7 separate regions of the Homo sapiens genome follow, and regions 1, 2, 4, 5, 6 and 7 are each linked to region 3. A link means that fine-mapping ties the variant in region 3 to the plasma level of a protein whose gene starts in the linked region. Region 3 holds a variant in brackets. A gene starts in each other region. All regions are shown on their reverse strands.

Region 1 (4,000 bases), not on the chromosome of region 3:
TTTCATTAGAAACAGTCTCTTATTTGGCTCTGTCTATTCTTTTATGGTATTTAGCAGTATGATCATAGTCTTCCATAAAGTAGTGGTCTCTTGGTGCCTGTCTCATTGCCCCCCAAGAACCTCAATATCCACTGAATCCTGTTGCTTTAGCGGGATGTCCTGACCACTTTTTCCTTAATGAACCCATCACGGGCATCCCTTTCTGAAGTTGTTTGTATGTTCTTATCGGCTCCTGTTTAGCCCCATCTGTTGCTACTATAATTTGAAGCTTATTTCTAGAATATTGGCCCATAATCACTTAAATGACCTTGCTTTAGGGTCAGGATCATTGCTAAAGGGTGGTGTTCTACCTGTGGGAATCCCATCCCCTCATTCTCGGTGTTTGCCTTAACTAAGCCCTATTTTTGCCATTCCTTTTAGATACAATGACTTCCCTGCTGGAATTCATTTTCCTTATCACTCCAAGCTGGGTCTTTCTGTTTGCCTTTCAATTTCTCTGGGATTTTTATTGTCTTGTGATGGCCTTCTTCCTGTGGGCTCAGGAGCAGCGGGTCGGGAATGGAGTTCTCAAGGATCTAAATCTCTCCTCCTTTACCTGCCACAAGGATTTCTCTTCCTTTTCCTGTCCAATGGGAGCCACTCAATTTTAATATCCTCCTACTCAATGGATTTGTTAATTTTAATTCCAGTCAATACATGCCCTTTTCTTTCCTTATGAAACAGCCACGACCTAAACTTAATGAGGGAAATTTCAAGAGGAAGTACCAAACCAATTCCAAATAACAGGTGTTTCACAAACATTAATCTTATATAATAAGCTTCATTTTTCCTCTAGCAAGAGAAGTTACTAACCAAGTCCCTTCATAGGTAGGGGTAGAAAATTACCTGGTAATCATTGATGGTGGTCTTTCCTAGGAGTGTAGCTGTAAGGAGAGGGCCCCCAATTGTCCTGGTCAGAGTCTGTGGTTTGAGATCAATGAGATGATAAAAATTAGAGCCAATATTGTCTCAGCTCTCTTGGGGCCAACTTGTACCCTGGAGGTGGTTGTGTGTGTTGAGCACCAGAGCTGTCATGGTCTGGGTGAAGACCCAAGATCATGTTAGAGACTGGCCTGCTGGAAAAGGGCTCTTCTTCAGCATTCACTCTAACTGCCAGAGACAAGGAGTCTCCATCACTATCTCCATCACAGTATTCCTGATGGATCTTTCAGGATAGATGTCCTGGAAGGAATGATGTCTCGCCGCCCTGTGGCCTATCCCAAGTGCTGCCACATACCTGAGTGTCTTCTTGTCTTCAGCTAGAGAGAACCAATCACTTAGACTCTCATCCTGGACCCCATGCAGTGGCATCATAGTACACAGTAATACTGATCTTTGTGATGTAAGTTGCTTTTTCCTTACATCTCTAAGGCTACAGAGAATTCAAGATTATATCATCTGAAGGTGCCATTAGGACAAATTATTCTTTGCAGATATATTTTATTATTCGATACCCAAGCATACCATAAGCATGCTATCCCTTCCTTGTGACTTCTCTTCCTGTCTTCATAGGTCTAAGACTAATAACATAGTCACTGCTCTTTGAGAAACCCAAGATGGTTCAGCTGCCTGAATACATACAGCCTACAAAGATCTGCTCACCCTGCCCATCCACTGCTGGGTATTATACTCACAAAGGCTTTGGTTTTGAAGTGAAAAAAAATATATAACTCGATAATTTTCTCAGTATTACTGAGACTGTTCCATCCTATCTAATTATCTAGGAAAGTCAGAAAAAATCAGGCCAAATATTTCCTCAGGCTCCATTGCCAGTGCCCACCCAACACATTTTGTTTTATTTTCAGCTAAGGCAATTGTGGAGACAGATACTGGCATTCCAATTCTATGTGATATTTTTTAAACCATTAGGCTTCTCTGACGTGGAAATCCAGGCTCTACCAGAGGCCATGATGAAGAATGCAGAATGGACAAGCTCTCATAGAGAAAATCTGTGTTTTAGGACAAGAGAGAAAGCAGATACATACCAAACCATATATTGTGGACTGGGAGCCAGCAATGTTAAGAAACAAAACACAGTGATTGAGGCAAAGGAAATCAGAAGGAAAGCCTTACTCTTAAATAGATACGTATTTTTATTTTACAGGTTTTTTTTTTCCTCGAGTCTGTGCAGAATAACTGAAAATACGACCAATCTGAAAACAACAGTATTTATATGTTTACAGGGAGGTGACCGGGGCTAAAACAAATACTAGATTTGTGAGCAAAAGAAATCATTTTACCTCTCTGAGACTCCGGAAAAGTAATAGTACCAATCTAATGGTTAAAAAGACTAAATGAAGTAGTATATAAAGCTCCTAGAATACTGCCAGTAGAAATAAGCACTAAATAAATGTTGCTCTTATCTCACATAGTTATTATGAGAATTAGGCAATTAAAGCACTTAGTATAGAGCCTAGGTTATAGTAAATGCCAATACGTGTTAGGTAGCTAAAAAAATTAATCGATCAAATCATATAGGGGGAACTACAGTCCTGAAAACAAAGAAGCCCACTTATAACCCTTGCCATGCAGTCCAGGGTTCACAAAAACCTGGGTCTTACCAGACAGCTGCCCACCTGGTAGCTATATTGCCCCTATTCATGCCTCTTCCTCAGCAAGTTTCTATGTCCAAATCCACATTACCCCACATGTAGTCACAAGGACTTGGAAATATCAGCCTTTCCGCCTGTTTATGTGTAAAACGAGGTAATAATTCATTTTTAGAAGGATAGTTACAAAGAAGATTAACAGCATCTAGCTTGCAGTAGACCGTAGCTCACAGACCACCATTCTCCTTTGTTAAGAAAGACAGTGAAATCATTGGCTATGTGGTCTTGCCAACAAACCATACATGAAAAAATTATCTTGAGGCATTCACTGTATTTGGATTCTTATACCAATACCATTGTATTTGGATTTCATATACCAATGGGATATATGAAAACCTTCTCCGTTTTTTGTCTTGTAAGCTGGTTCCGAATAAACAAAATGTCTGTTTCTCTAGATACCCGGGGTTAACCCTTCAAAGCATTATGATCACAGAGCATTTCAGCTCTCTCAAGTGTAGCTTCAGCTTTAACTGATCCTTCATGGCTTCCCCCAGGCAAGGGCTAGGAGGGAGAAAGGGGCTGCATAACAAAGAGGAGACGCAGGAGCTCTCCCGGAGAAAGCGAGCCTGGAAATCTGTATCTCCGCCGCAGCTTTTGGTGCCAATATGGAACCAATACAGCATTTCTCTTTCCCTTTTGGGGGCAGTTTAAAATAGGCTGTGCCTCCCCAGTTTTGGGAGCTGGAGCCAGTGAGCCGAGCCGAGCCTGCCCGGAGGATGCGCCAGCTTCGTCAGCGCGGATCAAGAGCCCCCGGAGCCCCGGCCTGGTGCATCTTTTTTTCAGGCAATTGGAATGGAGAATCTGGACGCCAGCAGCTGCCTGTAAACCACCCTTTGGAAGGCAAAATCCGTTTCTCAGCAAGAGAAAGCGCTTAGAGAAAAGCGCTGCCATCAACACCGCTGATCTAGTCCCCGGACCAGATTGTGGCAAGAGCCGAAGCTCCGCGCCTTCCACTCGCCGCCCGCCCCAGGGCCACCGGCTCAACATCGCCTGCCCTGCGCCCTCCTTCCCAAGCCCCGGCCCCGCTCACCAGCCTCTCCATCCTTGCTCCTGGAGGCGCGCGCGAGGTGGCTGACTGCGGATGTGCGCCTGGAGCTCTGCTAGGCAGGCGGGAGGAGCGTCACCTGTGCCCCTGCCGCACCTCCCGCCTCTTCCTCCTCGCTAGCCCCCTTCTCCCACTCCGTTTTCCCCACGCCCTCACAGGAGCGGAGGCTGTCTGTGTGGGGGGAATTAAATGATGTTTATATTCAGCTTTGTCTATTTTCAGACATTTTTCCCTTTTCAAAGGTGACCGCTGGGGAAACTGACAAAGTGTTTGGAAAAAAAAAATCATTTTTTTTTTTCCATTTTCC
Region 2 (4,084 bases), not on the chromosome of region 3:
CTTCCTCATGCAACTGTCTGGCTTCTTTTTTTAATTTTTTAATTAAAAAAAATTTATTTTCTTATTTCCCCAAGAAAAACTTTTTTATTTTTATTTTATTTATTTATTTTTTTTTTTGAGCCAGGGTCTTGCTCGGTTGCCCACGCTGCAGTGCAGTAGTGCAATCATGGCTTATCACAGCCTGGAACTCAGCCTTAAATGATCCTTTCAGCTTGGCCTCCCAAAGTGCTAGAATTACTGGCATGAGCCACTGCACCTAACCCAGGCTAGCTTCTAAGACCCACACTTGGCCCAGCAAGGTGGCTCATGCCTATAATCCCAGCACTTTGGGAGATGGAGGCAGGTGGATCACCTGAGGTCAGGAGTTCGAGACCAGCATGACCAACATGGTGAAACCCCGTCTCTACTAAAAATGCAAAATTAACCAGGTGTGGTGGCACGTGCTTGTAATCCCAGCTACTCAGGAGACTGAGGCAGGAGACTCGCTTGAACCCAGGAGGTGGAGGTTGCGATGAGCCAAGATTGCATCATTGCACTCCAGCCTGGGCAACAAGAGTGAAACTCCATCTAAAACAACAACAATAACAACAACAACAAAACCCACATGTGCTCCAGGTGGGGAAGATGAAAAAAGTTCCCAGCCAAAAGCTATATTCTGCCCAGTGTCTGCTCAGACAGCTACAGCTGCCCAAATTGCCTTTCTGTATCTACCTGTCTAGCAACACTGTTAACCCTGTAAGAACCAGCCCCATGTCCTGTCTTGTACAGGGCTGGCTGTTCCTTTCTCCAGACCATGTTCCTCCCCTCCACCCCTCTCCCCCAACAACACAAGCCTTTGGTTTCTCTTCTTTTAAGAGCCCTCTGCACTATGGACGGAAGTTCTGGGTTCATGTTTGCTCTACCCACCTCCTGGAGCACTTCAGGGACTTGTCTTTGTCATGTCTGTGTCCCAGGGCTTTCTACCAACCCTAGTACTCGGTAGACAAATGATAGACATTTGTTGAATCAAGCTGTGAGTTGGAGATCTTTGCAGAACCATCACTGCCCCTCTTAACTTGGAACTCCCCACCCAGAGTGCCTCCCCTAAGATGATGAGGTGTCAGACTTCAGTGGCCTGAGTTCTCTGAAAGCAGAGACTCTGAGAAAGAAGACTAGTCATCAAGACCACACTAAAAAGATGTGTTTCTGTGCCAAAGACTTTACTCACAAACAGGTAATACTATCATCTCCATTTTACAGAAGGGAGGCCCAAGTCTCATAACCTCAGTCGTAAAGCTGGGATTCCAAGACTGGCTATCTGACTTTGAGTCAGATATAATCATATCTTGGTCCTCAGGGATATCACAGAGGCCTGGCATGGCACCAGGGCATGGCCCAGTGCATTGGGGTATGCCCAACAGGACCCGCAGGGGGCAGTGATGAGCCTTCTTGTTTGGATTGGGGACAAATCTGCAGCTACTTCTTTCTCAATTAAAGAGGAAGTGGGAATTTAAAAAAGACTTTCTGCCGGGCACGGTGGCTCATGCCTGTAATCCCAGCACTTTGGGAGGCCGAGGCAGGTGAATCACCTGAGGTCGGGAGTTCGAGACCAGCCTGACCAACATGGAGAAACCCCATCTCTACTAAAAATACAAAATTAGCCGGGTGTAGTGGCACATGCCTGTAATCCCAGCCGCTCGGGAAGCTGAGGCAGGAGAATTGCTGGAACCTGGGAGGCGGAGATTGCAGTGAGCTGAGATCGCGCCCAGCCTGGGCAACAAGAACAAAACTCCGTCTCAAATAAATAAATAAAAGTAAAAAAGACTTTCAGGCCGGGTGTGGTGGCTCTCGCCTGTAATCCCAGCACTTTGAGAGGCCAAGGCGGGCGGATCACCTGAGGTCAGGAGTGCCTGGTCAACATAGTGAAACTCTGTCTCTACTAAAACTACAAAAATTAGCCGGGCATGGTGGTGGGCTCCTGTAATCCCAGCTACTCAGGAATCTGAGGCAAGAGAATTGCTTGAACTTGGGAGGCGGAGGTTGCAGTGAGCCAAGATCACGCCACTGCACTCCAGCCTGGGCAACAGAGCCAAACTCAGTCTCAAAAAAAAAAAAAAAAAAAAAGACTTTCATATAGTTCTTTCCCCAGAGGTCTAGGGATGTGGACCTGTGAGGGCTGTTGTAAATGCGTAGCTCCTTATTCTCTGGGACATTTGTTGTTTTTTTGTTTTGTTTTGTTTGCTGTTTTTTTCATTTTGTTTTGTTTTCTGTTTTTGTCTGTTTTTTGCGAAACTGGTGAGTTACTAATTAATCCTCATTCAACATAGTCCCATCCCTTCCTTCCTAGGGCACAGAGATTGTACTGAGGGGAGGGCAGGAGAGAGCAACGTGCAAGTGGGAAAACTGATTCAAAATACCTTGCTTCACAATTTCAGGACAGAAAATGGATAGTGTAAGTGACCCAGAGACTTGGCCAATGTGTCTCTGTTAAATACATCCACTTTTAAGAAAGTTAGTACTGCCAGGCACAGTGGCTCACGCCTGTAATCCCAGCACTTTGGGAGGCCGAGGCGGGTGGATCACAAGGTCAGGAGTTCAAGACCAGCCTGGCCAAGATGATGAAAACCTGTCTCTACTAAAAAATACAAAAATTAGCTGGGTGTGGTGGTGGGCACTTGTAATCCCAGCTACTCGGGAGGCTGAGGCAGAGAATTGCTTGAACCCAGGAGGCGGAGGTTGCAGTGAGCCGAGATCATGGCACTCTACTCCAGCCTGAGCAACAGAGCAAGACTCTATCTCAAAAAAAAAAAAAAAAAAGAAAGAAAGTTATTACTTAATCAAAGGAGCAAGGAAAAAAAAAGGAAGGGGGAATTTTTCTTTAGACCAACTTCCTTTTCTTGAACCTAATTCTACCCCCCTTGGTGCCAACAGATGAGGTTCACAATCTCTTCCACAAAACATGCAGTTAAATATCTGAGGATATTCAGGGACTTGGATTTGGTGGCAGGAGATCAACATAAACCAAGACAAGGAAGAAGTCAAAGAAATGAATCAAGTAGATTCTCTGGGATATAAGGTAGGGGGATTGGGGGGTTGGATAGTGCAGAGTATGGTACTGGCCTAAGGCACTGAGGATCATCCTTTTCCCACACCCACCAGAGAAGGCTTAGGCTCCCGAGTCAACAGGGCATTCACCGCCTGGGGCGCCTGAGTCATCAGGACACTGCCAGGAGACACAGAACCCTAGATGCCCTGCAGAATCCTTCCTGTTACGGTCCCCCTCCCTGAAACATCCTTCATTGCAATATTTCCAGGAAAGGAAGGGGGCTGGCTCGGAGGAAGAGAGGTGGGGAGGTGATCAGGGTTCACAGAGGAGGGAACTGAATGACATCCCAGGATTACATAAACTGTCAGAGGCAGCCGAAGAGTTCACAAGTGTGAAGCCTGGAAGCCGGCGGGTGCCGCTGTGTAGGAAAGAAGCTAAAGCACTTCCAGAGCCTGTCCGGAGCTCAGAGGTTCGGAAGACTTATCGACCATGGTGAGTGTAGGGTCTTGGGGTCGAACGCGTGCCACTCGGGAGCCACAGGGGTTGGATGGGGCCTCCTAGACCTCTGCTCTCTCCCCAGGAGCGCGCGTCCTGCTTGTTGCTGCTGCTGCTGCCGCTGGTGCACGTCTCTGCGACCACGCCAGAACCTTGTGAGCTGGACGATGAAGATTTCCGCTGCGTCTGCAACTTCTCCGAACCTCAGCCCGACTGGTCCGAAGCCTTCCAGTGTGTGTCTGCAGTAGAGGTGGAGATCCATGCCGGCGGTCTCAACCTAGAGCCGTTTCTAAAGCGCGTCGATGCGGACGCCGACCCGCGGCAGTATGCTGACACGGTCAAGGCTCTCCGCGTGCGGCGGCTCACAGTGGGAGCCGCACAGGTTCCTGCTCAGCTACTGGTAGGCGCCCTGCGTGTGCTAGCGTACTCCCGCCTCAAGGAACTGACGCTCGAGGACCTAAAGATAACCGGCACCATGCCTCCGCTGCCTCTGGAAGCCACAGGACTTGCACTTTCCAGCTTGCGCCTACGCAACGTGTCGTGGGCGACAGGGCGTTCTTGGCT
Region 3 (4,081 bases):
ACTGCAACCTCCACCTCCCGGGTTCAAGCGATTCTCCTACCTCAGCCTCCCAAGTGGCTGGGATTACAGGCGCGTGCCATGATGCCCAGCTATTTTTTGCATTTTTAGTATAGACGGGGTTTCACCATGTTGGCCAGGCTGGTCTCAAACCCCTGACCTCAAGTGATCCGCCCGCCTTGGCCTCTGAAAGTGCTGGGATTACAGACGTGTGCCACCATACCTGGCCCAGGGTTTGTTTTTTAATTACATAAGTGTGTATATCACATTAGTAAAATTAAAAATTAGGATCAGTACTAAAATCTGTGAAGTTTAAACAAAATGCAGCCAACCACCCCACAAAGAATTTACCCCATGACCTTGACCTCGTTGAAACAAAGATTTATCAGGCTACAAGAGGCCACTGGGGCAAAAAATAAATCCAAATCTTGGGGAAGGGATGTCACAGAAGATGGTGGTGTGGGAAACTCCAGGAATTCATCCCTCCATCTAAGCAGCCATCAAATGGACAGGAACTGACTGAAGTAACTGCAGGTGCTCCTCTACTCATGATCAAATTAGGCCCTGTTAAACCCAATGTGAGTTGAAATATGCTAAGTCAAAAATGCACTTAATACACCTGACCTACCAAACATCACGGCTCAGCGTAGCCTACCTTAAACGTGTTGAGAACACTTACATTAGCTTCCAACTGGGCAAAATTGATAGGGACAGGAGGCAGAGAAGTGCTAGGTAGAGAAGGGCAGGATCCCTGGCGAGGGCTCCACCCTCGGACCTGTGCCCACGGACCTAAGTGGGAACAGGCACTCCTGTTTTCATGCGCAAATGTTACATTTCCAAGACCACTATGATTCACCACACCCCGCATCCTGTGCCCATAAAAACCTGAGACCTTAATGGGCATAGACACAAGCGCTAAACATTGAGAAGAGTGAAGGAATAGAGCAGTGGAGAGCAGTGGGGTGGCGCAGCAGAGAAAGAGAGAAGAAGGACATCTGGACACCAAGGGGAGTTTGGCCAGCAGTGGTTGGAGAATAGTCTGGGGGGTTAGGCAGCCTGGCTCCAGGGGAAGACCACCTTCCCACTCCACTCCCCACTTCCAGTTCCCCATCCATCTCGCTGAGAGCCACCTACACCACTCAATAAAACCTTGCACTCAACCCTCCAGCCCACATGTGATCTGATTCTTCCAGTACACTGGGCAAGAACTCAGGCTGTCACACTGCCTCCCTGTCCTTGTGATAAGGCAGAGGGTCTATTGAGCTGACTAACACAAGCTGTCTGCAGATGGTATAGCTGAAAGAGCACA[C/G]TGTAACACACGCCCACTTGGGCTTCAGGAGTCCTAGATGCTGCCGTGGGGTGGAGCCCAAAAGCACTCCCCACAGCCTCTGCACCTGCCCATCTGCATGCTGCATGCTCCCCCCTAGGGGTTTGAGCAGCAGGGCACCAAAGGAGCAAGCCTCATTCCTGTCGCACCCCCTGCGAGGGTCATAAGGGAACTCTTCTATTTCAAAATCATCTAACAAAACCTATTTTATAATACAGTGTTGAGTATCTCGTAATTTATTGGATATGGTACTAAAAGTGAGAAGCAGAATGGGTGTATGGGTATTCGAAATACATTTTCTACTGAATGCACCATTTCTATTTCACATCATCATAAAGTGGGTAAATCATTATGTCTAACAATCCTAAGTCAAGGACCATCTGTATTTGGGAACTAGTCTAGTCAGAAACTTGGAGCATCCAAGGGAGAGCTTGATAAAGAGGCTGGTACATTTCAGCGAATTTCAGCTTCTCCCTGTGGTTATGGCTGTGTCAGGCAGCTGTGAAGGGGGAAGCAGCCCACACGCCCAGTGCAGCTAGGTGAGGCCAGGCCGGGCAACAAGGATTTAGCCCTCCAAATGTCAGGACTGTGTGTTCTGATTGGTGCTTTTATTTGCTTTCATCACTTCTCTTCAACTTAGTACTGGAAGTTCTAATAAGAGCATGTAGGAAAGAAAAAAATAAATAAAAGCATCCAAATTAAAAAGGAAGAAGTGAAATTATCTCTGTACACAGATGGCCTGATTTTAAATGTAGGAAGTCCTAAAGCTTACACACACACACACACACACACACCACACACAAATACCACATACACATACACAATAGACACATACACACCACACACACACACCACACACACATACATACACACGCCACACACACACACATACACACCACACACACAAACTGTAGCACTAACAAATTTAACAAAGTTGCAGGACACAAAATCAAAACACAAAAATCAGTTGAATTTTGATACACTTGTAATGAACAATCTGAAAATAAAATTAAGAAAATTCCATTTGCAATAGAATCAAAAAGAACAAAATACTTAGGAATAAATTTAACTACGTAGACAAAAGACTTGTCCACTGAAAACTACAAATGGTTGCTGAAAGAAAAAGACCTAAATAAATGAAAAGATACCCTGTGTTCATGAAATGGAAGACTTGATATTGTTAAGATGTCAATATTATCCAATATAATCTATAGATTCATGCAATCCCTATCAAAATCCCAATGATTTTTTTTTTTTGCAGAAATGAAAAACCCCATCCTAAAGTTCATATGGAATTTCATGGGAGTCTGCACAGCCAAAACAATTTTGAAAAAGAATGAAGTTGAACGATTCACACTTCCTGATTTCAAATCATACTACAAAATGACAGTAATCTAAACAGTGTGGTACAGGCATAAGGATAGCCATATAGGCCAATGGAATACAATAGAGAGGCCAGAAATAAACCTATGTGGGCAGTTGATTTCCAACAAGGTGCCAAAAGCATTCAATGAGGAAAGAACAGCATTTGTGCTGGGAAAACTGGCCATCCACAGGAAAGAGAATGAAATTGGACTCTTACCTTACATTAAATACAAAAATTAACCCAAAGTGGATCAAATGCCTAAACATAAGAGCTAAAAACTATAAAACTCTTAGAAGAAAACGTCAGGAAATAAAATCTTCACAACATTGGATTTGACAATGATTTCTTGGATTGGATACCAAAAACACAAGCAATAAAAAAGTAGATAAAAAGGCCTTTATCACAGTTAAAAACTGTGTCCACCAAAGTACACTATCTAGAAAGTGAAAAGACAGCACAAAATAGAAAATATCTGTAAATCACATATCTGATTAAGGGATGAATATCCAGAATATATTAACAACTACAACTCAATAACCACAACAAAACCAAATACAAAATGGTCGGTGGACCTGAACAGATAATTCTCCAAAGAAGATATACAAGTGGCCAATAAGCTAAGCACATGTAAAGATGCTCAACATCATTAGTCATTAGGGAAATGTAAATCAAAACTACAATGAAATAGAATTTCACACCCAAAAGAATTATTACTTTAAAAAAACAGAAAATAACAAGTGATGGTGAGAATATGAGAAATTGGAACCCTCGGGCATTGCTGGCGGGAATGTAAAATGGTGTAGCCACTGCGGAAAACAGCTTGGCAATGCCTCACAAAGTTACACTATAATTATCATACGATCCAGCAATTCTACTTCTAGGTATATACCCAGAAGAACTGAAATTAGGGACTCAAACACATATTTGTACAACAATGTTCAAAGAAGTTTTACTTATGATAGCCAAAAAGTAGAAGCAACTCAGGTGTCTGTTAGCAGATAAACAAATGTGGTATGAACATACAGTGGGATATTATAGAGCCGTAAAAAGGAATCCTGATACCTGCTATATGTACAACCTTTCAACATTTTGCTAAGTGAAATAAGCCAAACATAAACGGACAAATATTATGTGATTCCACTTATGTGAGGTATATAGAATAGGTAAATTCAGAGACATAGGAAGAAGAGAGTTTACTAAGGGGTGGGAGGTGGAGGATGGAGGAGAATGGAGAGTTATTGTTTAATGGGCACAGAGCCCATTGGATGTTGGATGATGAAAAGTTCTGGAAATACAGAGTGGTGATAGTTAAACAACATGGTGAATATGTTTAGAGCCATTGAATTGTACAGTTGAAATGACTACAATAATAATTGTGTTATGTATCCTTT
Region 4 (4,000 bases), not on the chromosome of region 3:
CACTCTCTGGTGAGGTCCCTGAAGGCAGGGACCCTGCCTTTTCTTTTTTTTCTTTTTTTTTTTTGAGATAGAGTCTCACTCTGTCGCCCAGGCTGGAGTGCAGTGGCACAATCTCTGCTCACTGCAACCTCTGCCTCCCAGGTTCAAGGGATTCTCCTGCCTCAGCCTCCCGAGTAGCTGGGATTACAGATGCATGCCACCATGCCTGGCTAATTTTCTGTATTTTTAGTAGAGACGGGGTTTCACCATGTTAGCCAGGATGGTCTCGATCTCCTGACCTCATGATCCGCCCACCTCAGCCTCCCAAGTGCTGGGATTTAGACCCTGCCTTTTCAATCCACATTCCTAGGCCTTAGCCTTAGTTCTCAGCCTTTGGATGTATATTTGTGCAGGGAGAGGGAAAACACTGTCCCCAGAACCTGCACAAACCCAATTCCCCAAATTTACCCCTCCTAGCCCATCCAAGGCCCTGAGGTTGAGAGGTGTGCTCCCAATAGCAGCACTGTGTATGACACAAAATCAGTATTTGCAAAGGGTCTTGAGAATGAAGCAAGGGAAGTCAGTGAAATGAATACAATAATCTTGGATCTCTGTATCTGGCTGCAATTGACACCTCATTAATTTGTCTGATAACTGCGATGCAAGGTGCTGGGCATTTTAACTTCCCAAGGCTGGGCAGAAAAAAGACAAAGGCTCTGGAATCAGAAAAACTGTAGGTGTGGATCTGGGATCTACTACTTAGTAGCTGGATACTCTTGGGTAAATGACGGAATTCCTCCTCCCTTTTATTAAAGCATAATAATAGTTCCTATTTCATGTGGCCCTTAGGAGGATTAAGTGAAAATAAGATATCTAAAAATTTTCTACAGTGTCAGGCACACAGTAAGCACTTAAAAAATGACAACTATTGTTATCATTTATTTCAGTCGTTCTCACCTCTCCAGAAAATAATTGGGGATGTCTTAATTTCTAAAACTATACTTTCAGAGAAAGACAGGATGCTGTCTCATCAATTATTCACACGTATTCACACACACACTATCTCTCTCTCTCTCTTAATTGATCTTGTTTTGAGAATCCCTCCCCGGATGGTGGTCTTCCCTTCCTCTGGGGGGTGGGGAGGGGATGCGGGTGGCAGCGGAGCCCACCCTTACCTTCAGAGAGGCGTCCCCGAGGCTGGGGCGGGGGCGGCAGCTCCTCCTTCACGCCAGGTCGCGACTGCGGAGGCCAAGTTCAGAAAGTAGGTGAGAAGCAGCGATCTCCGCCTCCTGACTACCGTGGAAAGTGAAAGAGAGGTGTGATTAAAGAGATAAGGCACCCAGAGAGGGCTACAAAAAAAAAAAAAAAGAAGAAGAAGGAAAAAAAGTAGGAACAGAAAGAAGAATGTCAGGCGTCTGGCAGCTCCTGGCTGCTAACCCCGGCCGGTGGAGGCTGCAGGTGGGCACTGCCCGCGGTCGGGCGAAGCTCCGGGTCCGGGAGTGTAGCGGTCTGGGGCGCTCTCAGTCTGGGGCGCTCCCTGGCGTAGAATCCTCCCTGACTCGGAGGTCCCGGTCTGGGGACCCTCCGGTCCGGGTGCTCCTCGCAGCCGTGCTCCAGGACCGGCTCCTCCACCCAGACGCCCCGCGTGGAGTTACCGGAGCTACTGGATCGCGGGGTCCAAAGGTTGCTGCTGGAAAACCCAGCGCCTTGCCCTTTTCCCGCGGACGGCGTGGGCCCCAGGCGTCTGGCGCTTCCTGCCCAGCCGCGCGGCGCGGGTCCCGGGAAAACCCGGGCTGTAGCCGGGTGACCTGCGGGGCCGGAAGGGGGCGCGCCCGGGCCGCTCGCAAGCACCCTGCAGGCCGCGGTTCACAGCAGAGGATGCCAGGAGGGAGGACCGCTGGCCGCAGCGGCCGCCCGGCTCTTCAGAGGAAGAGGAGGGGAGGGCTGAGGGTGGAAGAGGGGTCCCCGGGGGATGCCGAAGGTGAGAGGGGCTCCGCGTCTCAAGTACACAAATGCGCCCCAGGCTTTTTGCTTTCCCAGAAGGATGGGAGTTCACTATAGGGAAGTAATAGAGAGGGGTGCAATTGTTGAAGTTTTAATTTTTTTTAAGGAGGCCAAAGGGGAATGTGTGTTTCTAGATTTTTATTTTGTGGCAGAACTGTTATTTAACCAAAGGAAAAGGGAAACCCATAGCCGACAGGCAAAATGTTCAATTGGACAATGATTTTAATTCTTTTTACCCAATTTAGATAATTCACCACATAATAAATAAAAATATGTAATTATCTCAATAAATGCAAATAAAAGCATCTGGCAAAATTCAACACCCTTTCTGAATTAATAACGATCAGAAAACCGAGAGTAGAAATGATCTTTCTTAATCTGATAAAGAACATCTATAAGAAACCTACAGGTGACCTCATAATAGTGAAACATTTTACTTTTTCCTAAGATTAGTAATGAGATAAGGATTTTGGCTCCCACCTGGGACAACTGCTTTGCAACAAGTGAAGAAATAAAAATAAAATTAGAAAGCATAAAGATTGAGAAGAAAGAATTAAAACTACTGGTTTTAACAGAGAGCATAATTATATGTAGACCAACTTTTGAAATCTACAAAAAAAAAAACTACTGGAAATATTAAGTTTATCAAGATCATGGAATATAAAAATCAATAGCAATTCTATATATTAGAGATGGAAACTTGAAAAGTGAAGTTTGTTAAAAATGCCATTTACCATAGCATTTAAAAATCAAAATACCAAAGTATAAATTCATTGGATAATATATGAGATATCTCCTGTGAAAACTACAAAATATTGCTAACAGAGATGAAACATCTAAGTAATAAAGGGATATACCACGTTTACGGATTGGAAGACTTAAGACATCTATTCTCCACACTGTATATTTTTAGACTCTATATATTACAGAATCTATATATTTAATACAATTCAATCCAAATCCCAGGAAAATTTTTCAAAGAAATTAAGAAGCTGTTTCTAAAATTCATATGAAAATGCAAATAATCTAGGATTGTCCGGACAGAGACGGAGTTTTGCTCTTCTTGCCCAGGCTGGAGTGAGTGCAATGACGCGATCTCGGCTCACTGCAACCTCCGCCTCCCGGGTTCAAGCGATTCTCCTGCCTCAGCCGCCCGAGTAGCTGGGATTACAGGCATGCACTATCACGCCTGGCTACTTTTGTATTTTTAGTAGAGACAGGGTTTCTCCGTGTTGGTCAGGCTGGTTTTGAACTCTCGACCTCAGGTGATCCACCCATTTCAGCCTCCCAAAGTGTTGAAATTACAGGGGTGAGCCACCTGCCCGGCCTGTCTGGGCAATCTTGACAAAGATGAACAAAGTTGAGAGACTTATACTGACTTGAGGATTTATAATAAGGCAATAGTAATTATGGCAATGTGATATTCACAGAAACATACAAACATACAAAATAGAAAGTAGACTAATAGATCCACACATATCTAGTCAATTGATTTTTTTAACAAAGCACCATGTCAATTCAGTGGGGAAAAAACAGTCTTTCACAAACATTGCTGGAACAGCTGGGTACCTCTACAGAAGAAGCAGCAGCAGAAAAAAGAACTTTGTCCTTGCCTTGTTCTATATACAAGTATCAATTCACAATAGACCATGGACCTAAACATAAAAGCTAGAACCGTAAATATTTCATAAAAATACAGAGAAGACCCTTGAACAGGCAAAAAATAAATAAATAAATCATGCTCTTGGACAGGCAAAAAAAAAAAATTCTTAGCTAGGACACAAAAAAAAATAGCCATTTGGGACACATTGATTAATTGGACATCACCAAAATTAAAAATGTCTACTAAACAAAGACATCACTTAAAAATGAATAGATAACCCTGGAAATATTCTCACTTTACATCTATCTGGCAAAGAACTTGCATCCACAATACATAAATAATTCCTACACATCAACAATATAAAAAGAAATACAATTTAAATAAGGCAAAATATTTTGCCTTCACTAAAAAATA
Region 5 (4,092 bases), not on the chromosome of region 3:
GCCAGAGAGAAGCAGAGCCACGACTGGGCCCACACCCTGGGCCTGCAGGGGCCGTGCCCTTCCACCAACCCCAGGAAGGCTGAGAGGGAGCCCGGAGAGTGGCCAGCCAGAGCCCCGGGCCAAAGACGGCCCGAGATTCCATGTGGCCAGGACGCAGGGGAGGCTGCCACAGCCGTCTAGGCTGGGCTCCGCCTACCGCTGCCTGTCTGGGCACCCAGGCCCTCTAGGACAGCTGCCCATCACCCCCATCACACACACTGCCCAGGCAGCAAGGAACCAGGTTTTAAAAATCTCTATATTTGTACTTGGAACAGCCATATACCCTCCTGGTTCATTTTAAAACACATGCCCCATCCTCACCCCCAGCCTCCTGCACCCCCGTTTCCTTGTCAAATATTCTCAATCTCAAACAGACCCTCTGGGAAGCAGAACAGAGAAGCCTCCTGAGTGGCCCCTCATGGGAGCTGGTCCCTGACATGAAGGAGGCTAAGGTGTCCACTGGGCCCTGGGGCCGGGCTCAGGGTGGTGTCCCTGGGGCTGGGCTCAGGGTGGTATTCCCAGGCAGGGCACAGGAGGCTTGGCTGGGGGAAAAAGGAGGAAGACCAGAGGGGCAGACAGCCTCTATGCTGGCTCCTTTCTCCTCTGCCCACCCCCAGAACTCCCAGACACCCCCAACCATCACATACATGCCATCCCCTCCTCCTTCCTACACTGCCCACTGAGGCCATAGCAGCCCAGAGGCGGCCCCTGGGCTCTGGTGCCTGGGAAACGGGAGCAGAGTTTGCTCCTCGTGGGCCCAGACAAGCTTCTGTCAAACCCCAAAGACACCAGATCGGCTGCTTAAGCAGCCTCTCTCCTTACCCCTCCCCGCGGGCCTGGCTTTCCTGGTCTCCCTCTTTTGGCAGTGCTGAGACTTTCTTTCTGCCGGTGGGGAGGTGGGGGTGGGAAAAGCTGGGCTCTTCTTGGCAGCTCGGAAGCTGCTGTCGGGTTTCCCTACCAGCTGGACTTCCCCCGCCTCAGCTCCACGTGCTCGGCTCCCTCCCCGCCCCCACCTGAGGCAGTTATCTAAGCTGCAGGGGTGTCATCTGAGTCACAAAGAGACACTGCCCAAGTAGCCCTGACAGCCGGGTGCCAACACCCCCCAGAAATGTGGACAGCTTGGGGGTGGGGGAGAGACAGGGCCGCCAACTGGAACCCAGCCCCAGACCTGCAGGGAGGTGCAGGAATGTGAACTTCCGACTCCTGGTCAGGCTGCTCCTCTCTCCAGCACTGTCCAAATGGGTCTGGGGGATTGAGAGCAACTGTCCCGCTCTACTCAGGGTGTCCATGCCCCCTGTGTGGGTCAAGAAGCCAGGCAGGCCTGGCCCCGCTGTGTACCCCCCACCCAAGCTCAGTGTCCAGCCCCCACTAAGGCTCCCTGACCCATTTGCAGATGGACGGCTGGGTGCACAGCTGCGGGACACCCCAGCAGGTTCTCGCGGGCCTGGTTCTCCTGTCTTGCCCTTGGGCTAGCAGGGAAGGGCTGCGATACTTCTCTCTCCTGCCCACTCCCAGCCTCACCCTCACCAGGGAGGCTTCATGCACAGCTGAGTGGGCCCATGCTCATCTGGGGGAGGGTTCCTCCACACCCTTGTCCAAGGACAGCCACCTGCAGGCAAGCTATAGGGAGGCCCAGGACCTGGGTCTGTGCCCATGCCTCTGACATCCAGGACCTCCTCCCTGCCACCCTCCACCCCAAGCCTTCCTCTGACCTGGCCCTGTCCCCAGCACCTGACTGCCATCCCAACCGCTTCCCATGACCCCCGAGTTTCTTGGGGCTGTCTGTGCAGAGCCGGGCACAACGACAGCACAAGGCTCTTGGCTGCTTCTCCCATGCTGCAGGGACCGGTTTCTATGCCACCCGGGACTGTCATCTGGCGCCAGCGCTGCCCTCCTCCCCACTTCCCAGCAGAATCCACAGCTCTTGTCCCCAGCACTGTGGGCTCAGAGTTCCCAGTGTCGTGCACCTTTGGGATGCTCAGGTGCCTGAGCCCGAGCAGCTTCTTCGGCCCCAGCAATTGCCTGCAGGTAGGAAGCAACTGCAGCTATTCCTGCAGGGCAGAGATGGCCGGTGCCCACTTCCCATGCCCCGACCACCCCCTGTCCCCACCAACCCTCCATTCCTTCCTACCAGCCACTCGGTACTCACCCGTCTTTACTCTGACTGCAAACGCCTTCAATCAGGTGGCTCTCAACCCTCCAGTAAGACCCTCCTGGGATTCCTATAGAAATCCAGACACCACCGGCAGGCAGAGCGCAGTGGGCACTGGTGCCAGAGTCTCCACTCAGCGGGAGCAGCGGCTGGCACGCAGCACACAGCACCAGGAGGTGGACTGCTTGTGGCAGACGGGGGACGGGGCTGCTGGGTCAGTCACAAACTGAGAAGGAAAGAGAGGGATGGAGGGAGAGAGAGAGAGGAGAGAGGGAAGAAAGGGGCGAGGGAGGAGAGCGCACGCGTGTGCGCGAGCAGCGAGCCAGAGTGGAGCGGGGAGTGACAGCTGGGGTGCATCTGTGATGACAGCGGCAGCAGCACACACAGGCGCACACCAGAGGCACCACGGCCGGCCGCGAGGGCAGCGCTCACCCTGGCCACGCTCACATTTCAGTGGAAAAAGGCGCCTGTGGATGAATCGCTGCCGACCACAGGGAGGAGGAAAGCGGTTTCACCACCACCTCCATCTTCCATCCTGCGCCTCCAGGCTCTCCCTCACCCCCCCGGCTGCACCTGTCTTCTGTGCCTCTCTCCTCTCTTCCCCTCCATCTGGGGAAAGAGGGACAGGCGCAGACACAGAGCAAGCGGCTGACTTCTGTTCCGATGGAGGCCCCCCTGGGAAGCTGGTCTTTCTCCTGTTTTAGAGACATGCGAGGCAGAGTCTCCCATCCTGCCTGAGAGAAGGAAAAACCGAACCCTTCTCTCGGTCATACGAAAGAAGGGTACACAGGCATGTCCATGTGCCAGATGACCCTACAGGAAAGGGCCCTGAGCCCCCACAAAGCCAGGGATCACATGGTCATGCAGAGGTCACTGAGCCTCAGGGTCTGACCACCCGACGCCAGGACTACTTAGGGAAGCAGAATGCCAGAGTTGGCAGGCTGGGAGTTTGGGCACAGGGCAGCCTGCAGCAGCAGCCTGCAGACCGTTCTCAGTGCCAGGGACGAGCTTGGCTTCTCAGGGCTCCTTGCTCTTATCTGTGATGGGTCAGGCATGCGAAGGGAAGAGACTGTCATTCAAGAACTTGGAGGCCTCTTTCTTAACCAATCAGGACAAAGCAAGTCAGAAAAATTGATATCCTAAGAGATGGGAAGTGGCTGATCTGAAGGCCAAGTGAGTCAGGGACCAAGCTAGAGGGGAGCCAGGGCCCCACCAGCCTGGAGCACGAACCCTAAATCCCCCTTCCTTTGCGTCCACTGCCTGTAGACAGATGAAGCACCGTGCTAGCGATATATCACCGTGTCCTATGTCCCTCTTCCATTTTGCCTGCTTTGCTGGAGGGGTTCACAGCCAGGACTGGGGTGGGTGTAGAAGAACCCCCTGGACTCAGGATGCCCCTAGAAGGATGCTCCTGCTCACTCCCTTCTGTCCGTTCTGCCGGGTCCCCGGGCAGCACAAGGCTTGAGCTGCAGTGTCTTTTACCTCTGGGGAGTCCCGCCTCTGACCTCTCATGCTGGTGCCTCCCACACATCCCACTGTCAAGCAAAAGAGGCTCCCACCTCCCCATAAACATACTTCCTGCTTCTCCATCTCCATGAAAGCGTGTTCTTCCCTGGGCCTGAAATGCTCTCCTGCCCATGGGTGGCTTCCCCCTTCCTTAAACGCCCCCTGCAAGGTGACGTTTCCCCGGAACACCACAGGACTGGCCCTGCTCCTCCTCCGATCTCTGGCATTCTCTTTGGGCCACCCTCATGTTGTGCAGGAGCTTTCTGTGGTCTGCTTCATCTCCTTTCCTTTTTTTTTTTTTTTTAATTTTTTTAGTATTTATTGATCATTCTTGGGTGTTTCTCGGAGAGGGGGATTTGGCAGGGTCATAGGACAATAGTGGAGGGAAGGTCAGC
Region 6 (4,084 bases), not on the chromosome of region 3:
CTGTGCAGGCTATGGAGGTGGAGTAAGCTGAGGCTTAGAGCTTGGAACAAGGGGGAATAAACCCAGAAAATACAGTTAAACAGATGGCTGTGTCATTCTTGAGTGGAATGGGGTGGGCAGGCAGCCAGCAGGGCTCTGTAGCTAAGGCGTCCCTGCAGGGGCCATTACCTACCATAGCTCTAGTGTCTGGCCTAAGAGATGCCCTTCACCCATAACCTCAGGCACCTACAACTCCAGAACCCCAGCCCTGGCCAGCATTGCAGGCTTGGTCTCCACCCAAACCTTCCTTCTGACTCCACACTTGAAGGCTCCCCCACCACTCCACTGTCTTGCTCTTGCCCTCTAGTCCACTGGAGACTTGTAAATTATGAAATACCCCATGTACTACCCCCTCCTAGAGACTTTCCATGGCTCCTCAGTGGCCCAGGACAAAGCTCATACCTTTCAATCAGGCCCCCACAGGCCCCACTGAGGGCTAAAGTGCTGACAAGAGGAGCCGCTCCCTGACTCCAAGGCAAGTTCTCACCAAGCACTCCTCAACCTCGCAACATCTTTACCTGTGACACCCCTTAGATGACGAGGCATGCCTGCACTGCTCACGTGAAGCTCGTCTTCTGTCTGCACATGCTGGGCTTGTGACTCCAAGTTTTCCAGGCTAATAAGGGTCACAGGACTCACATGGGGAGAGATGACACGTTTCTCCAACAAACCTTTGCTGGGCCCCTGCTGAGTCTCAGGCCTGGCTGCTGGGTGCCAGCAAGAGCATCCTGTCCTCAGCGAGAACGGCTGAACTCCGCTGGAGCTTCAGAAATGTCAGGGAGAGTCTACCCAGGGCCCAGGGAGGGTCTATGCCGGGCTGCACATCCCCAGGCCGCTGAGTGTGCTCCCTGCACCCCAACATTCTATTAATGAACATTTGTAAATGTAACAGAAAAGTAGAAAGAGTTGTATATTGAATACCCTTATACTGTCAGGTCACCACAGACCTGACAGTATTTTGTTATATTTGTTTTATCATCTATTCATCCCTCTATCCATTAATTCATCGCTCCTTTTTTTTTTTTTTTTTTTTTTTTTGAGACGGCGTCTCGCTCTGTCACCCAGGCTCTGGAGTGCAAATATTTTGTTATATTTGTTTTATCATCTATTCATCCCTCTATCCATTAATTCATCGCTCCTTTTTTTTTTTTTTTTTTTTGAGACGGAGTCTCGCTCTGTCACCCAGGCTCTGGAGTGCAGTGGCGCAATCTCAGCTCACTGGAAGCTCCGCCTCCCAGGTTCACGCCATTCTCCTGCCTCAGCCTCCCGAGTAGCTGGGACTACAGGTGCCCGCCACCACGCCCGGCTAATTTTTTTTTTTTTTGTATTTTTAGTAGAGACGAGGTTTCTACTGAACCTGTTAGCCAGGATGGTCTTGATCTCCTGACCTCATGATCCGCCCGCGTCGGCCTCCCAAAGTGCTGGGATTACAGGCGTGAGCCACCGTGCCCAGCCAATTCATCTCATTTTTTGGCTGATGCTGTTTCTTTGAGATGGGGTCTAGCTCCATCGCCCAGGCCGGAATGCAGTGGTGCACTCATGGCTCACTGCAGCCTTGAACTTAAGGGCTCAAGTGATCCCTCCTGCCTCAGCCTTCTGAGTTGCTGGGACTACAGGTGTGTACCATCATACCCAGCTCATTTCTTAATTTAAAAAAATTTTTTTTGTAGAGACAGGGTTTCATGATGTTGCTCAGGCTGGTCTCGAACTCCTGGAATCAAGCCTCCTACGTCTGCCTCCCAAAGTTTTGGGATTACAGGTGTGAGCCACCACACCCAGCCCTGATCTGTTCTTGAATCAGTTAAAGCCCTCACACTCCCAGAAGGCCGCCAGCCAATGCACCTGTTGGAACTTTGCACACAGGGTGTCTTCTCCCTTCAAGCTTGGTCTGCAGCTCAGTAACAAATGGGCTACAGACACCAGGGGCTTGCCCATGGGAGCCCCAAGGCCTAAAGAGGGTGGCAGAGATTTGATGTCTGTCACTCTCCACCTGCAGCCTCAGTCCACGGTCGGCCAGGCACCAAGAGCTCACACTTTGCCCTCCTAAATGCCAGGCCCTTCATAAGTATCATCTCATTGTTAAGAGCGGAGGCTTCAGCGCCAGACAAATGCGAGTTTGTGTACAACTCAACCACGTGCTGGTGGGAGAGTCACCATCTCTGAGCAGACCTGTGACTCCTGTTCCAAATGGACGAGGAACCACTGCGATGATGTGTTAGGACTCCCAGCCTGCCAGAACCTCACAGCCCCTGGCCCTTCACAGCAAAGTTGACCGCAGTGAGCATTCCATCCACCAGTCAGAACACCCTGGACGCTGAGCGGCCTTCTCTGAAAGCCTGGTGCCTTTGTTAGCCCTGGGTGACTCCTGTGATCCCAGCCACCAGGTTGTCACTATAGACCTAATTTAACCATCTGTCCTCAGTACCGAGGGCTCAACATTTGGAATGGGAGGTGGTTCTGGGAGCCAATTAGAGGCCAGGCTTTGGGAGGTGGCAGAGGTGAGTCTCACACCTGGGCTCTGTCTGATAAGTCTAGGTCTCGGTCAGGGGACCTTGGCCTAAAGGGCCTGTCTTGCCTGGAGCGTGGGAGGGGGCTGAGTCTACACAGCTGGCCTGGCCTCAGGCCTGGAGCTTTAGCTCAAGGACGAGAAGACCCATAAAGCCAGACCCAGCTCCCAACCTCACATCTGCCACGATGTTGCTGCTCAGCCTGACCCTAAGCCTGGTTCTCCTCGGCTCCTCCTGGGGTGAGTGGGCCAGGACCAGCCCTGATTCAGCCCTGGGAGCAACTCAGCTCCCAGCAACAGCCCAGGGAAGGAGCTAGGCTGGCTGGAAGGGACGAAGGTGGACAGAGTGGGCAAAAGAAACAGGATATGCCAGGGCAGTGGAGCAGGGAACAGGCCTGCAGGGCTGGGAGGGGGCAAGAGGTGGGGTGGTCTCACAAATAGGACCAGAGATTGAGCCAGGCCCTGGAGCCCGGGAGGGTTTAGGAAGCTGAGACAGGAAGACCTGTCCATGTCTTTTAGAAAGAACCTTCTGGCTGCATGAAGGGTATGAACTGTTCAGGTCGGGAGGGGGCAGAGAGACCAGGGGTAGAGATGGGGAACAGCGGGGACTAGGCTGGAGACAGATGTAGGAGAACAGCAGGGCTGGGGGACTGGGTGGATAGGGATAACCAAGATAGCTGTGGGGCCCGAAGGTGCTTGCATGTACCCTGTTGGGGAAGGGGTAGTGCTGTACCCTCTCGACAGACCTCTCTGGGGTGCACAGCCTGGGGCACCCAAAAGGAGGTGGGGAAAGATGGGCTGAGGCATGGGAAGCAGGTCCTCATTAGCCCAATGGCCAGGCTGCGGCATTCCTGCCATCAAACCGGCACTGAGCTTCAGCCAGAGGATTGTCAACGGGGAGAATGCAGTGTTGGGCTCCTGGCCCTGGCAGGTGTCCCTGCAGGTACACCACCAGAGGGGTGGGCAGGGTCCTGGGTACGTCATGCCTAGGGGCAGCCTCAGCAGCCCACCCCCACTCTGACCTCTGAGCCCTGACCACAGGACAGCAGCGGCTTCCACTTCTGCGGTGGTTCTCTCATCAGCCAGTCCTGGGTGGTCACTGCTGCCCACTGCAATGTCAGGTGAGTGCCTGCATTCCACCTGCCCCGCCCCTCGCCTCTTCCTGCCTCCTCCCCTGGCTGTCCCCCTCTCGCGCTGGCCTCCCTGCAGCTGCCTAATCCCACCCCCTTGCAGCCCTGGCCGCCATTTTGTTGTCCTGGGCGAGTATGACCGATCATCAAACGCAGAGCCCTTGCAGGTTCTGTCCGTCTCTCGGGTGAGTGCCTGGGCTGCAGACACGGAGGAAAAGTGGGCAGTGCAGGTGGGTGGGTGCTGGGAACGAGGAATTCAGGACATGCCCTGGCCTACCCTGCTCAGCACCCATCAGAACATGGACTGTTTCTGACCCCACAGGCCATTACACACCCTAGCTGGAACTCTACCACCATGAACAATGACGTGACGCTGCTGAAGCTCGCCTCGCCAGCCCAGTACACAACA
Region 7 (4,079 bases), not on the chromosome of region 3:
GCCCCAGCCATTGTCCTTGAGAGAACTCTGTGCTTTTGATGGAGTCCTGCCCACCTTCCCTGGGATTGGTCATTTTTGATGGCACTCTCTCCCCTCATTGGTCAGAACCCCAGGCATTGTCCTTGAGAGAACCTCTATCCTTTATGGAGTCCCACCCTCCTCCCCTGGGATTGGTCATTGATAATAGTGTTCTCTCTCCTCATTGGTCAGGGCCCCAGCCATTGTCCTTGAGAGAATGCTCGACTCTTTATGTTGTCTTGACAGCCTCCCCTGAGATTGGTCATTAATGACTGTGCTCTCTCTCCTCATTGGTCAGGGCCCCAGCCATTGTCCTTGAGAGAACCTCTGTCCTTTATGGAGTTCCACCCTTCTTCCCTGGGATTGGCCCCTAGAGACAGTGGTTCTTCTCTTTTGGTTAGCCATTGCCATTGTCCTCCGGGAAAGTGATTATACTCTTTTGTCTAATGACCAGACTTGGAGCCCTCCCCAAGGCCCAGGACTGGGTTGAAGGGTTGGGGAGGAAAACAGAAATAAGATGTCTCCCTTGTTCAGACAGTACTTCTCTTCCCTTCCAGGGTGATTCTGGGGGCCCCCTGGTGTGTGGGGGAGTCCTTCAAGGTCTGGTGTCCTGGGGGTCTGTGGGGCCCTGTGGACAAGATGGCATCCCTGGAGTCTACACCTATATTTGCAAGTATGTGGACTGGATCCGGATGATCATGAGGAACAACTGACCTGTTTCCTCCACCTCCACCCCCACCCCTTAACTTGGGTACCCCTCTGGCCCTCAGAGCACCAATATCTCCTCCATCACTTCCCCTAGCTCCACTCTTGTTGGCCTGGGAACTTCTTGGAACTTTAACTCCTGCCAGCCCTTCTAAGACCCACGAGCGGGGTGAGAGAAGTGTGCAATAGTCTGGAATAAATATAAATGAAGGAGGGGCCATGTCTGTCCATTTGAAGTCCTCATGCTGGTTGAGACTGGAAGAAGGACTCAGCAGTTTCCCTATCTCATAGGAGTAGAAACAGAGCTCAAATAAGGCCAGGCACAGTGGCTCACACCTGTAATCCCATCACTTTGGGAAGCTGAGGCAGGTGGATCACCTGAGGTCAGGAACTCGGGACCAGCCTGGTCAACATAGTGAAACCCCAACTCTACTAAAAATGCAAAAATTAGCCAGGCATGGTGGCGCATGCCTGTAATCCCAGCTACTCAGGAGGCTGAGACAGGAGAATAGCATGAACCCGTGAGGCAGAGGCTGCAGCGAGCCGAGATTGAACCATTACACTCCAGCCTGGGCGACAGAGCGAGACTCCATCTCAAAAACAAACAAACAAAAAACCCAGTGCTCAAATAGGATGAGGGTCTTCCCTGAGTAGTTACTCAGAAATGGAGTAGAAAAAGTTACTTTTAATAATATAGGCCGGGTGCAGTGGCCCACGCCTGTAATCCCAGCACTTTGGGAGGCCGAGGTGGGAGGATGGCTTGAGCTCAGATTTCGAGATCAGCCTGGCAACACAGTGAAATCTTGTCACTACAAAAACACAAAAAATTAGCTGGGTGTGGTGGTGCGTGCCTGTAGTCCCAGCTACTTGGGAAGCTGAGGTGGGAGGATCACCCGAGCCGGGGAGGTGGAGGCTGCAAAGAGCCGAGATCATGCCACTGCACTCCAGCCTGGGCAATAAAGTGAGACCTTGTCTCAAAAACAAAAACCCAGCAATATAAATAAGACACATGTTTCTTCATCTGGCATAATAGAAATAGTGCCCAGAGCTTATAAGCTTTTCAAGAGTCCACAAAAGACCCGAAAAAGAAAAAGAAAATTGTTAGCTCCAAAATACCAGATGAAAGCTGCAAAGTCAACATTTATGACCATTTAATCCAATGTCCATAAAACGTAGCATTCTTTCCACTAGCCAACTGCAGTTTACTTTCTTGTAATGAAGCATACATTGTATCTTTAATGTGGGACGTGGCTTTGTTCTAATAAGACGAAGGGTGGAGTGCAGGCTTGGAAAGCAGGAGAGCTCAGCCTACGTCTTTAATCCTCCTGCCCACCCCTTGGATTCTGTCTCCACTGGGACTCAAGAGGTGAGGAGAGACCATCTCCCCAAATGCACTGAAGGGAAACTGGAGGAGGGAGGGAGTGAGGGGTGATCATACCAGCGGAGGCACATTTGCTGAGCCCCCCCGCAGTCTGCTCTTTCCAAGTGGACCCTCCTGGAAGCCTGATCCCAACCTCCCCTGCAAGCAGGTCTGTCACCCCCATCTCTCAGATGAAGAAACTGAGCCTTGCAGGGGTGGAGTCCCTTGTCCCCACGTCATAAGGGTAGTCATAGTAGTAGGAAGAGGAAGCACCTAGGTTTGAGGCCAGGGCTGGCTGCTGTCAGAACCTAGGCCCTCCCCTGCCTTGCTCCACACCTGGTCAGGGGAGAGAGGGGAGGAAAGCCAAGGGAAGGGACCTAACTGAAAACAAACAAGCTGGGAGAAGCAGGAATCTGCGCTCGGGTTCCGCAGATGCAGAGGTTGAGGTGGCTGCGGGACTGGAAGTCATCGGGCAGAGGTCTCACAGCAGCCAGTAAGTGAACAGCTGGACTCGGGCTGCCTGGGCGGCAGGGAGAAGCGGGCAGGGGAAGGGTCAGCAGAGGAGCGAGGCCCCAGAGGAGCCCTGGGGTGGAGCACAGCCAAGGGCTCTGTTCCCTTTCCTGGACTCGGCTTCCACAGGCCCTGACCTGCCTCCCCCACCCTCCGGTCCTGCCCCTGTGCCTGGCAGCAGCCCCACCTGTGTGACATCCCAGCACACCCCCCCTCTCCTTGCAAAGGAGAAGGGAGCGGCCTAGGGGAGGCCAGGGGCCCACCTGGGCTGGGGCTGTGGAGAGGGAGTGGCTGGGACGGGAGGAAAAAGAGAGACGGAGATTAGATGGAAGAAGAGGGATTTCAAGACAAATTGCCAGAGATGCAGTCAGAGAGACTGACTGAGAGACACAAAGATAGAAGGAATTAGAGAAAGGGCCACACAGAGCCAGACAGAGAGAGAAGAGTGGAGATGGAGACAGGGACGAGGACAGAGAAAGGCAGACAGACACATAGGGACAGAAAGAGAAAAATCACACAAAGTCAGAATTACTGAATGACAGGGAATGACACATAGAACGAGACACAGATTCAGAGACTCAGGGCAGGGAAAGGAAGGCTGCAGACAGACAGACAGACAGAGGGAGGCTGAGACACAGGGAGAAGAGGGGCTTGGAGAGGTGGCACAGGCAGGCAGCCAGTGCCTCAGAGGCCTCCGGGGAGGGCCCTCACACACACCCCGCCCCGGGGCATTAAGGCAGGGCTTGGAGGCCAGTCATCCTGGGCCCGCCCAGGGCCGCCCCCCTGCCAGCCCGCCTGCCTGGTGCCTGGCACCTGGCGCTCCAACCCAGCCTACCTGCTGTAGCTGCCGCCACTGCCGTCTCCGCCGCCACTGGGCCCCCAGAGCCCCAGCCCCAGAGCCTGTGAGTCCAGGAGGAAAGGGAAGCTGCCCCTCCCCGTCCAGGTGTCAGCCCTCCCCAAGGACACCTGTCCCACTCGGGCACCCATTTCTCCCTCTGCTCTGTCCTTCTCTGCTTGGGTGGGGGTTCCTGGCCTCTCTCTACACCTCTCACCTCCGATGGCTGTCCGCAGCCTCAGTTACCTCTAATCTCCATGGCTTCAGCTGCTGAGCTGGCCCTCTGCTCCCACCCCCGCTGGCCAGGGCAGCGGAGGGCACTGGCCCTCCCCTCGACCAGCCCCGCCCAGCTTTGCTTGGCTGTCCTTCAAAAGGGCAGGGGTTTGGCGGACAGGGCTTCAGCAAGCCGGGTGATGGGGGTCCCAGACATTGTCTGGGGCTGAGCCCCCTACTCCCCTCCAGCAGACCTCAAAGGCTCCATATCGCTCTGCTGCGAAGACAATGAAAAAGGGGTGGCTACGGAACGGTGTCTGGTTCCCCTTGTCCTTCCACCCCAAGCTGCTGGGGCCTGGCCAGCTCTCAAGGCAAGAAGGAAAACATCCTCTGACATGTGCCGGGGAGGTCCCATGGCTGACTTGAACAGGGCCGAAC

Alleles and levels. Alleles are on the strand shown, and positions count from the first base shown. The strength of an association depends on the size of the effect and on how common the allele is.
With allele C in place of G in region 3, the plasma level of the protein whose gene starts at base 3,747 in region 1 is lower (weak association).
With allele G in place of C in region 3, the plasma level of the protein whose gene starts at base 3,411 in region 2 is higher (weak association).
With allele G in place of C in region 3, the plasma level of the protein whose gene starts at base 1,759 in region 4 is higher (weak association).
In carriers of allele C in region 3, the plasma level of the protein whose gene starts at base 2,438 in region 5 tends to be lower than with G alone (weak association).
As copies of C replace G in region 3, the plasma level of the protein whose gene starts at base 2,724 in region 6 goes down (weak association).
In carriers of allele C in region 3, the plasma level of the protein whose gene starts at base 3,417 in region 7 tends to be lower than with G alone (weak association).

The links. A credible set is the group of variants that fine-mapping cannot tell apart. PIP is the chance, under the fine-mapping model, that this variant and not a neighbour inherited with it causes the effect. Protein levels are from antibody-based Olink assays in UK Biobank. Linkage for the fine-mapping came from a reference panel and not from the study's own genotypes, which makes the PIPs less certain.
Region 1: CD200 starts here. The variant in region 3 is the best candidate, but not a certain one, in a credible set for the plasma level of the CD200 protein (UK Biobank, PIP 0.87).
Region 2: CD14 starts here. The variant in region 3 is the best candidate, but not a certain one, in a credible set for the plasma level of the CD14 protein (UK Biobank, PIP 0.88).
Region 4: IL18R1 starts here. The variant in region 3 is the best candidate, but not a certain one, in a credible set for the plasma level of the IL18R1 protein (UK Biobank, PIP 0.86).
Region 5: LRTM2 starts here. The variant in region 3 is the best candidate, but not a certain one, in a credible set for the plasma level of the LRTM2 protein (UK Biobank, PIP 0.54).
Region 6: CTRL starts here. The variant in region 3 is the best candidate, but not a certain one, in a credible set for the plasma level of the CTRL protein (UK Biobank, PIP 0.63).
Region 7: it holds the start of KLK11, and the variant in region 3 is the best candidate, but not a certain one, in a credible set for the plasma level of the KLK11 protein (UK Biobank, PIP 0.77).

What each region holds. Positions count from the first base shown.
Region 1 is chr3:112,332,903-112,336,902 of GRCh38, reverse strand. CD200 (CD200 molecule) reads right to left here and starts at 3,747. Exons shown (of 6, transcript NM_005944.7): 1 at 3,679-3,747. The coding sequence starts at 3,690. RefSeq lists enhancers at 910-1,669, 2,166-3,122, 3,123-4,000.
Region 2 is chr5:140,632,502-140,636,585 of GRCh38, reverse strand. CD14 (CD14 molecule) reads left to right here and starts at 3,411. Exons shown (of 2, transcript NM_000591.4): 1 at 3,411-3,517; 2 at 3,606-4,084. The coding sequence starts at 3,515. It also overlaps a transcript of TMCO6 not described here. RefSeq lists an enhancer at 3,767-4,084.
Region 3 is chr10:17,803,419-17,807,499 of GRCh38, reverse strand. No RefSeq gene overlaps it. Among named protein-coding and RNA genes, the nearest start is that of MRC1, 3.9 kb to the left of the region's middle. The variant C/G (reference allele first, on the strand shown) is at 1,307.
Region 4 is chr2:102,353,555-102,357,554 of GRCh38, reverse strand. It overlaps IL18R1 (interleukin 18 receptor 1), which reads right to left and starts at 1,759. Exons shown (of 11, transcript NM_003855.5): 1 at 1,155-1,759. RefSeq lists silencers at 1,705-1,764, 1,785-1,894 and an enhancer at 1,489-1,990.
Region 5 is chr12:1,818,911-1,823,002 of GRCh38, reverse strand. LRTM2 (leucine rich repeat transmembrane protein 2) reads right to left here and starts at 2,438. Exons shown (of 5, transcript NM_001039029.3): 1 at 2,189-2,438. All of the region lies in intron 26 of CACNA2D4 (calcium voltage-gated channel auxiliary subunit alpha2delta 4), which reads left to right. RefSeq lists an enhancer at 2,122-2,868.
Region 6 is chr16:67,930,502-67,934,585 of GRCh38, reverse strand. CTRL (chymotrypsin like) reads left to right here and starts at 2,724. Exons shown (of 7, transcript NM_001907.3): 1 at 2,724-2,785; 2 at 3,385-3,488; 3 at 3,587-3,666; 4 at 3,779-3,860; 5 at 3,998-4,084. The coding sequence starts at 2,734. PSMB10 (proteasome 20S subunit beta 10) reads left to right here. Exons shown (of 8, transcript NM_002801.4): 8 at 1-80. The coding sequence ends at 26. RefSeq lists enhancers at 3,233-3,749, 3,750-4,084.
Region 7 is chr19:51,025,954-51,030,032 of GRCh38, reverse strand. KLK11 (kallikrein related peptidase 11) reads left to right here and starts at 3,417. Exons shown (of 6, transcript NM_001136032.3): 1 at 3,417-3,495. It overlaps KLK12 (kallikrein related peptidase 12), which reads left to right. Exons shown (of 6, transcript NM_001370125.1): 6 at 576-939. The coding sequence ends at 731. RefSeq lists a silencer at 1-73 and enhancers at 2,106-2,662, 3,222-3,779, 3,780-4,079.